3 linked regions of the Homo sapiens genome follow. The protein of the gene in region 3 purifies or fractionates together with the protein of the main gene of each other region. This does not show direct contact. Each region holds a gene or a part of one and is shown on either strand. Other genes may lie near its edges.

Region 1 (3,657 bases), on a different chromosome or scaffold from region 3:
TGCATCAGAACCTAGACCCCAAACTTAGGTGTCAATCTTTCTTTCCCCTATGCCATGCTCCCATATATAATCCATCAGTAAATCCTGTCTGTTGTGCCTTGAATAATATATTTATCCTCTCCCCACTGCCCAAACTATTTGTAATCCAATCCCTTCTCACTATTGTCCTACCATCCTCTCTCACCTGGAATACTCTAATAGCCTGCAAGATCTGAACACTGCCTCCCTTTTTGCCCTTATTTCCTACTGGCTTTTTTGCAGTTGCTGGAACATGCCAAGTTGATTCCATTCTTAGGGTCACTGTACTTGCTCAAGTTGTCTTTGCCTAGAATAATAATCTCCCAGATCTATACAGGTATGTTCTCATCCTTTGGGTCTCAGCTTTTATTTTTCTTTTTTAGTGACAGGATCTCACTCTGTCACTCAGGTTAGAGTGCAGTGGCATGGTCATAGCTCACTACAGCCTTGAACTCCTAGGCCCAAGCAATCCTCCCACCTCAGCCTCCCAAGTAGCTAGGACTACAGGTACACACCACGATACCTGGCTAATTTGTTTTTATTTCTTTGTAGAGACAGGGTCTTGCTATGTTTCCCAGGCTGGTCTCGAACTCCTGGGCTCAATCAATTCTTCCACTTCTGCCTCCCAAAGTGCTGGGATTACAGGTGTGAGCCACCATGCCTGGCCTCAGTTTATATGTCACCTCCTCACAGAAACCTTCCTTGACCATCCCAACCAAATAAAATAACACCTCCTTCCCAGCATTCCCTATATCCTTATCTGGCTTTATTTTCTTCATAGCACTTCAGACTTCTGAAATTATATTACTTATAAGCAAAACTATTATTTACAGTCTTTCTTGTACTTATTATATTTCCATTATCAAGAACGATGCTTAGCACATACAGTAGAGGTTCAGTAAATTCTTGCTAAAATGAGTAATAACCCAATTTCTACCCAAAATCAGTGGATTAAGACAGAGTTTTAAACAGCATTCTAGGTACCATAACAGAAAGGTTTAGAGTATTCTGAGAGTGGAGAATACACTGCAGGCCAACGTGAAGTAGGAAGCTGCAACGTTAATAGAAAGGGAAAAGGTAACTCAGGCAAGTGAAAGATCACAGTATAGTCCAAGACCCAGGAAAAGGTCACACTAGGTTCCAAGGGTGAAGTTGTAGGAGATAAGGCTGGAGTGAAGGATTAGTTTTTATGCAATTCCAAGAAGTCACGAGTTCATCCTCTAAGCTACAGTTACCAAAGGCCTAACTTCCAAGGCAGGAAAGGGCAGGAGGTTTGCCATTTCAGTGGTACAACTAGGTAAGAGGTGGTGCTTAAAGGACATACACAGACAAATCTAAGATGAAATCTGAGAAGGATCACACAAAAGGAAGGATGATATACAGGAAGATGGAGAAGAAAATGGAAAGATAGGAAGCAGCAAAAAATCTGACTTTGGGTTTTTTAGATTTGAGATTTTTATAATATGTCCAGATGGTGTGTCCAGCAGGCAATTAGAAATGTGGTTCTCAAGTACAGGAGAGAAGCCAAAATTGGAAAAATAAATGGGGCAGAGTGAAAGGTCTACAGTACCTCATTCTCTGCTGAATTCCATTTATATGTTCAATAAACGTTTGTTGAATATGTGCTTTATCTTCCTAACTAGATTAAAATTATTCAAGATGTTCTACACTTTTTGTGTACTATCATAATACCTAGCATAGAATTAGGCACATACAGGAAGTATCTAATAAAGTTTTTGATGGACAGAATGGTTTTTATTTTAAAAAGTTATTTTAACAAAAACTTTTCCAAGAAGAATTAGCTTTGACTTTTGTTGGACAAAAATTTTTGTTTCTTTAAAAGACATTTGAGGCCGGGCACAGTGGCTCACACGTGTAATCCCAGCACTTTGGGAGGCCAAGGCGGGTGAATCGCTTGAGGTCAGGAGTTCGAGACCAGCCTGGGCAACATGGCAAAACCCTGTCTCTACCAAAAATACAAAAATTAGCTGGGTGTGGTGGTGTACACCTGCACAGCTGTAACTCAGCAAGCTGAGGCACAGCTACTCAGCAAGCTGAGGCACAAAGAATCACTTGAACCCAGGAGGTGGAGGTTGCAGTGAACCAAGATCGCGCCACTGCACCCCAGCTGCGGCAACAGACCGAGAGTCCGTCTCAAAAAAAAGACAGTTGAGGCCGGGCACGGTAGCTCACGCCTGTAATCCCAGCACTTTGGGAGGCCGAGGCAGGCGGATCACAAGGTCAGGAGATCAAGACCATCCTGGCTAACATGGTGAAACCCCATCTCTACTAAAAATACAAAAAAAAAAAAAAAATTAGCCAGGCATGGTGGCGGGCGCCTGTAGTCCTAGCTACTCAGGCAGCTGAGGCAAGAGAATGGCGTGAACCCAGGAGGCGGAGCTTGCAGTGAGCCAAGATTGCGCCACTGCACTCCAGCCTGAGTGACAGAGCGAGACTCTGTCTAAAAAATAACATAAATAAAATTAAAAAAAAACAGCTGATACATTTGATACATTGCTGGTAGAAATGTAAAATGGTGCCAACACTGTGAAAAACAGTTTGGTGGTTCCTCAAAAAGTTAAACACAGCACTGCTATATGACCTAGTAATTCCGCTTATACTCAAAGGACTAAAAACTGTAACTCGAACAGATATTTGTATACTAATGTTCATAACAGCACTATTTACAATAGCCAGAAGGTGAAAACAATCCAAGTGTCCATCAACAGATGAACAGATAAAGCATGGTATAACCATAAAATGGAATATTATTTGACTATTAAAAAGGAATTAAGTTCTGATACTCTTCATCTACAACATGGAGGAAACTTAACACCCTTATGTTAAGCAAAAGACAGACACGATGCAAACAAATAAAAAATAAAAAAAAAGAGCTGGATCTAAAAAAAAAAAAAGGACACAAAAGGACAAGTATTGTATGATTCTACCTATACAAAATATCTAGAAAAGGCAAAATGGGCCAGGCAGGGTGGCTCATGCTTATAATCCCAGCACTTTGGGAGGCTGAGGAGGGAGGATTGCTTGAGCCAAGGAGGTCAAGGTTGAAGTGAGCTATGATCATGCCACTGCACTCTAGCCCAGGTGACAGAATAACAACAACAACAACAAAAATATATATATACACAGAGAGAGAGAGAATAGGCATATACATAGAGAAAGAAAATAGAGTTTACTGGGTACTGGGGGAAGTGGTGTTACTGGTTACAGAGTTTCCATTTCAAGTTTTGGAAATAAATAGTAGTAATGGTTACACACCATTGTGCACGTACTTCATGCCACTGCATTGTACACTACATTAATATTAGATGAAGGAGATTTCAGGGACAAAAACTTTACAAAATGCAAACTAATCAGTCCTCAAGTTCATTTCCTGACACCTCCACCAAAAGAAAGAAAGAAAAAAAGTTTATACTAATTTATAGTGACAGAAAGTAAATCAGTGGCTATTTCGGGATAGGAAGTAAGGTGGGGTAGGAGAGAGAGATTACAAAGGGGCATGAGGAGATTTTGGGGATTGATGGATATGTTCACTATCTTGATTGTGGTGACAGTTTTATGTATATATATAGAGAGAGTACCTTTGAAATATGTACAGCTTATTGTATGTCAATTATACTA
Region 2 (2,756 bases), on a different chromosome or scaffold from region 3:
AAGTTCCGTCAATATAGAGTCCAGGGCACCAAGCAAGGGAGTGTCAGGACAAAGGTCGAACCAGGTCCATCTGACTCTAAAGCCTATGCTTTTAAAAAACACGACTAGGATTTATTTTTTAAATCTTGCCTTATTACCACAGGGCTATATGAACATCGCACATCATTATAGGGGGAAAGGATAAGCAGAAATAAGAAAATAAAAAGTCCATATTCCCACCACCCAGAGATGACCACTGATAGTGTATTTTCTTGCAGATATTTATATACTATGTATCTCTTCCAGATAATTATGTATGATTTACATAGTTTTGCTAAAATGAAATAGTACTGCACATACTGTTTTATAACCTTTTTTTGTGGGGTGGGGAAACAGAATCTTGCTCTGTTGTTCAGGCTGGAGTGAAGTGGCACCATCTTGGCTCACTGCAACCTCCATCTCCTGGGTTAAAGCAATTCTCCTGTCTCAGCCTCCCGAGTAGCTGGGATTACAGGCACATGCCATCACACCTGGCTAATTTTTGTATTTTTAGTACAGATGGGGTTTTACCATGTTGGCCAGGCTGGTCTCGAACTTCTGACCTCAGCTGATCCACCCGCCTCGGCCTCCCAAAGTGCTGGGATTACAGGCGTGAGCCACCACGCCAGGCCTATAACCTGCATTTTTAGTTAACAATCTTTTTCCATATATATAAATTTTTTATCTCTTTGAACACCCAGCCGGTATTCAAATTGCCTTAATTGTTCCAGAAGTATCTTTTAGAGCTTGTCCAACCCAATATCAAATCTAGCACATGTGCCTCAGGTTTTCATGTCCCTTTTATTTTAGCACAGTGCCTTTTAAATGACTTGGAGAGACCAAGCCAGCAGTCCTGCAGAATGTTCCACCTGGATTTTTCTGGCTGTTCATGATGTCTTATGACAGGTTCCATGATCTCCTGAATGCTGGAAGTTAGATCTGATGGCTTGATAGATGCAAGTTCAACATGGGGCTAGAACACATTACAGGTAGTGCTGCAATTTACACTCAGAGAGATGTAACATCCTGTTAATTCCCATTCATTAATGATGCCGTCATGACCTTCTAATTAGGGGAATGACAGGTGGATTTTTCCATGGTTCAGTTGACATTTACCCCTTTATGACCAAAAGGTCATCTAGATGGCTTACTTTGGCACCACGCAAATGTCTAGATTCTTTTGTAGGAAAACCGTTCCTTCAACCAGGGCTGTTTGGTTTCACTGAAATAAACTCCTATGGGAAAGGTTTCATTCCATTCCCTAATAACCTATTTTCTAAGTAAGGAGATGGTTTAAGAGCCACTTCAGAGGATGACAATTGCTCTTCTTCCTAGTACATCCTGTGTTTTTCTATCTGCTGCCGTCCCAGGCATGGGGACCATTCCTGGGTGTGACAGGTCATGTGACCAAAGTCTCCGCTAGCAGTTCCACATCTTGAGGACAGGCCAAACCAGTGACAGATCCCGAGGGAGTTCTGAATGTGCTGCTGAAGCTGTATTAGAAGGTGCACTAGCTCAGGAAAGAGGGTCTCTCCAGACCTCAGCTGAGGGGAGCCTCATGTCACCTCCCCTGGATGCAGCTTGACTTGGAACTGAGAGTGAATGGGACATGTTCTAAAGGAGCAGTGGACTAGGAGTGGGGAGTCCTGCCACTGAACCAGCCCTGGGAGCACCTAGATGCTCATCAAATGATCAAGAACAATTAGGTGGGTGGGACAGACAGGACCCAGGCTGCTGGGGAAGAAGGCAGGCTCCAAGGTCTGGAGGAGACAGAGGCGATGGGGGTGGGGCATGAGGGGAGAGGGTGTGCCCAGGGCCTTGCCCCCAACGTGACCTTGCTCCTGTCCCCTGTCTCTATCCCAAGCAGCTGTATGTGGCCACCGTGCTGCAAGAACCGGAGTTGAATCTGACCCCCGCCTCCTCCCCAGCCAGGCACACCTATGGCACCATGAACAACCAGCCGGAAGAGGGAGAAGAAGAGAGTGGTCTGAGGGGCTTTGCGAGGGAGCTAGACTCGGCCCAGTTCCAGGAAGGGCTGGAACTGGAGGGCCAGAACCAGTACCACTGACCGGGACCTGAGGCCTCCACTGGCGACTTGTTGAGGGGTCAGGGGAGGGCCTGGCAAGGGGAGGCAGGAGGGTGGCCTGGACCTCCCCACTACCTCCTGCAGACTTTGAGAAGCCCACAGTGGAGACATCCACCACCCCAGCCATGGGCCATACGGGGGTCCTGACCTGCTGCCCGGCTGGAACTGGGGGTGCTCGGCAGTGCTGAAGGAGCCTGGGAAGGGATGGGAGGATACAGGCAAGCACATGTCTTGAGAGAGGTGGCTGGAGCCCCGGCACAGAGACTGAACGCTGGGGTCCCTTCCTGGGACCAAGATGGAGAAGGTGTTCCTAAGGGAGGAGACAGAAGGAGGCTGCCGAAGGCTCTGTGGGGTCATCACCACTCTGCATCAGCTGCCCTTCCAAGGAGCTTCTGCTGCTGCTCCTCCTCCCAGCCCCGGCCCATTCCTCCCCTGCAGTCTGAGGAGGCAAAGGTATGTGCACGGGGCACATTGACAGGACACGGAGGACCACCTCATCACAGGGTTCCCTGCATGGGGATCTGTAAAGAGAAAGTTTCTGCACCCACCAGAGCAAGAGCCAACTGAAAGCGTAGACCTGAGAAGAGGTAACTCAGCCCCTTCCTGCTCCTCTGCCCTCATCAGATGTCCCCAGGAGCAGCAGGGCAGAGGC
Region 3 (3,657 bases):
TCCTTACTTTCTTCCCCACTTGGGAAATCTTAACAAGAAACATCTTCTTGCTCTTTCACTGAAGGTGATGAGGTGATCACATTAAACATGATTAAAAGCGCCCCTGTGGGTCCTGTGGCTGGAGGGATCATGGGATGCATCATGGTCTTGGTCCTGGCGGTGTATGCCTACCGCCACCAGATTCATCGCCGGAGCCATCAGCATATGTCTCCTCTTGCTGCCCAAGGTGAGCTCAAAATGAACCCCACAGGGGAGGCAGCAGCCAGGCTAGAAGGACAGTGGCGGGTTGTGTAAGCCTCTAAGGAACTGTCAGAACAGTGCTATACTTTCAGCTTCTGTGGAGTCATTTTGGAAGTTCCCAAAGCCTGCTTTCTTCTTCAGTGCCTAAACCCTACAAGCTCTATTTTGATCCCCGGAAAAATCCCTGGATCCTCTCCTTACCAGCATTAGCCCCCAGTGGCCTGCCTCTGCAATAAGCCAGTCAGGGGAGCTGGGATGCTGAGTGGGAAATTTTGTTTGTTAGATGTGCTGCCCTTGCAATTCCAAAAAGACAGGCAAATCAAAGATACCCCAGATCACTAATGGCAAGAATATAATCTGTTCGATTGCAGCTGCCATTATGTAGTGTGAATAAACACACATTTGAATAATCACATCTCTTAAAACAGGATAAGTCGGCCAATCGCGGTGGCTCATGCCTGTAATCCCAGCACTTTGGGAGGCCGAGGTGGGTGGATCATTTGAGGTCAGGAGTTCAAGACCAGCCTGGCCAACATGGTGAAACCCCGCCTCTACTAAAAATACAAAAACTAGCCGGTGCGGTGGCACCTACCCGTGGTCTGAGCTACTTGGGAGGCTGAGGCAGGAGAATCGCTTGAACCCAGGAGATGGAAGCTACAGTGAGCCAAGATCGCGCCATTGCATTCCATTCTGGGCGAAAGAGTGAGACTCCATCTGAAAAAAAAAAAAGTCATCGAAGCCAAGTACAAAATGATTCACCTATAATCATGGCCTCAATACCACGTGCAGTATCTATACTCTGTTTAAGTGCAGTATCTGTACTCTGTTTGCAGGGAACAAAACTGTTTAATGGCCATCTCCATCCTTCCTAAAACCCCAGTCCCCGGGGATGTGTTGACCTGACCTTTTTGGAGGTGAAGTTAACTCATCTTCCTGGCCACTTAGCTCACTCTAACAGCTGTAATGACAGGTTGATGTTAAAGCATTTCACTATGGCCACAAGCCTGAAGGGGAATCATGGAGTAATGTTACCTGATTTAGTAACAGGGATAATCACCATGTGCTTCCCTTGGTGAGATTCAGCTAGACTGAGGATGACCGTCATCCAGTGTTAGCTTATGCCTGGCCTTTTGGAGGCTTTTGTTGCACCATTTCACCAACACAGTCAGTCATTTTTCAATCCCTTTCCTTCTGTTTCAGTACTTTAGTAGAGGATTAAAGATTTGTTGGCCTCAATCAACTTCTTTTCTCCTCCTTTCTCAGAAATGAATTTCAGATGTCTCTTGATTACTTGTTCTTCTTGTTTGGATTCCTGCTCCCTCCTCCTTTAAAAAAACATGGGGCATCAGTTCATTCCCTTCTAAGATGGGATTCATTCTTGATGGAATGCTGTCACCCAGCCATCAAACAAGTGCTCAGCAGGGTATTAAAGCGGGTGATTTTGTTTGATTAAATAGTCATGTTTCTCTCTTTTTAATGATGGGTAGAAATGTCAGTGCGTATGTCCAACCTGGAGAATGACAGAGATGAAAGGGACGACGACAGCCACGAAGACAGAGGCATCAGTGAGTATTCAGCTGCCTTGCTGCAGAATGTGTCAGCAGGAGGCTAATCCAGAATAAATATTCTTTCTTATATCCTTTTGGCTTGTATTAAAATTTAAGAAGCTTTGACACGGTGGCTGGGTTTTTTTAGTTGTTTTTTTCCATCCTTTTTTGTTAGGAGTACGTGTAGGTCTTTGTTTTAGAGAATCTCAAAAGATTTTATTGTGTTTTTTTTTTTTTTTTTTTTTTTGCATTAAGTGTGTTGGCCTAAAACAGCTCACCCTTTCCTTTGTTTCTCTTGCTCATTATTTTCCAACCATAGTATTTTAGAAAAGGAAGTTTCAGGTATGCATTTTTTAAAAAATCCCTTAACTAGTATGTACAACTCAGGGAGGAAAAAAGAGCATTTTCTTTATCAAAAGAGATTTCCATTAGTGTTAAGACACCCTGGCCTTCAGCTACTAGACCATAGCTTCCTGATGCACGTTGGAGATATATAATTAAATACCTCTCACTGCACCAGTTCTAAAATCAGCACCCCAATCCCCAGAATTGTTTAAAAAATGATTTATTCTGGCTTTCCAAAGAGAATTCTCCCAGCATGTAAATGAGCCCTCTCAGAGCAAATGTGTTTGAAACAATGGAGATACTGGCATAAGAGTGACATTAACTGTCCTTGGCTTCCTACAGTCAGCAACACTCGGTTTATAGCTGCGGTCATCGAACGACATGCACACAGTCCAGAAAGAAGGCGCCGCTACTGGGGTCGATCAGGAACAGAAAGTGATCATGGTAAGGTCTAGCTTCCTGCATTTGAAGACCCAAGGAACCTCATGTACTCCTGTGGGATGATGCTCACACCCTATTTTGACATGGTTTTCCAAAAAGACACACCCCAGCATGCCACTGGTTTATAAGAGCCCGAGGACAGTTTTACTTATGTCTCAGCACTCCTCTGGGCACACAGATTGCTTTCAAGTTTTTCTCCATACAGAAGGATTCATATTGTTTAAATGGAGCCTGCTTGCCATCCCACTTGCTTTTCCATAAAATCAGCATCCTCTTAGGTCCCGCTCTCCAGTGTTGGCTGGCAAACAGCAGGATCTTTAAGGGCTTTTTCAGTCATGTCCCCTTGGGGCATGACAAGAATCTGTGCTGTCCTCCAGCATTCTCTTGCCCTGACCTCTGGCATGGTCTGGGGAGCTCAGAGAAGGCTTCACCAAAGAAGCAAGAAGCAACATTTGCACTGAGCCTTGAGGGGGTGATTAAAGAAAAGGTAGGGGCAAAGAATATTAGAGGCCAAAGGACCAGTGTTTACAAAGTCATGGAGTTGTGTAAGTGCCTGTAAGATGCTCAGGAAGGGTCAAGGCCAAATCATGAAGAGGCGCCGAGTGCTAGGTAACTTATGAAATCCACCTACTCTGCCAAAGACTTGGCCATCCCACATGGCTTCTCTCCTTCTCAGAGTCCATATCGCTCATTGTTGCAAAGAACAGCAGATGTATCCCAGTCTATAAGCATCACTGCCACAGTTCCACAAAAATATAACAGATGTGGGTAGTGTTTTTCCTGCCATTGTAAAATCTTTTTTTTTTTTTAAGATAGCTGTTTAATTTTCCAGAAATCTGTATTTTCCTCCTAGAATCAAGTCCTTTTTTAAATACATAAATAGTGTATTTAAGCCTTTTTGACTTAGCTTTTTCCACACCTATCCTGGAAAAAAAAAGTCCTCAAACCTTGTATTCCCTGTATCTACACTAAAAAATGCAAAAATAGATACTCCTCAGAGCAACCAACGTCACCATTTACACTACAGCCAGGTCTTCAAACTCCCTTTGGCAAATAAGAGCAGCTAAAGCTCTGTTTTATAAAT

Evidence for each region.
Region 1: the proteins of CACHD1 (region 3) and SLC26A2 fractionate together in Homo sapiens (co-fractionation; one large-scale study listed by BioGRID). This does not show direct contact.
Region 2: the proteins of CACHD1 (region 3) and TMEM63C fractionate together in Homo sapiens (co-fractionation; one large-scale study listed by BioGRID). This does not show direct contact.

What each region holds. Positions count from the first base shown.
Region 1 is NC_000005.10:149,967,254-149,970,910, reverse strand, and holds part of SLC26A2 (sulfate transporter), read right to left. Parts: intron 1-3,657. UniProt on the Homo sapiens protein: Sulfate transporter which mediates sulfate uptake into chondrocytes in order to maintain adequate sulfation of proteoglycans which is needed for cartilage development.
Region 2 is NC_000014.9:77,254,641-77,257,396, forward strand, and holds part of TMEM63C (osmosensitive cation channel TMEM63C), read left to right. Parts: intron 1-1,885; coding exon 1,886-2,086; 3' UTR 2,087-2,756.
Region 3 is NC_000001.11:64,679,531-64,683,187, forward strand, and holds part of CACHD1 (VWFA and cache domain-containing protein 1 isoform 1 precursor), read left to right. Parts: intron 1-64; coding exon 65-226; intron 227-1,727; coding exon 1,728-1,805; intron 1,806-2,474; coding exon 2,475-2,576; intron 2,577-3,657. UniProt on the Homo sapiens protein: May regulate voltage-dependent calcium channels.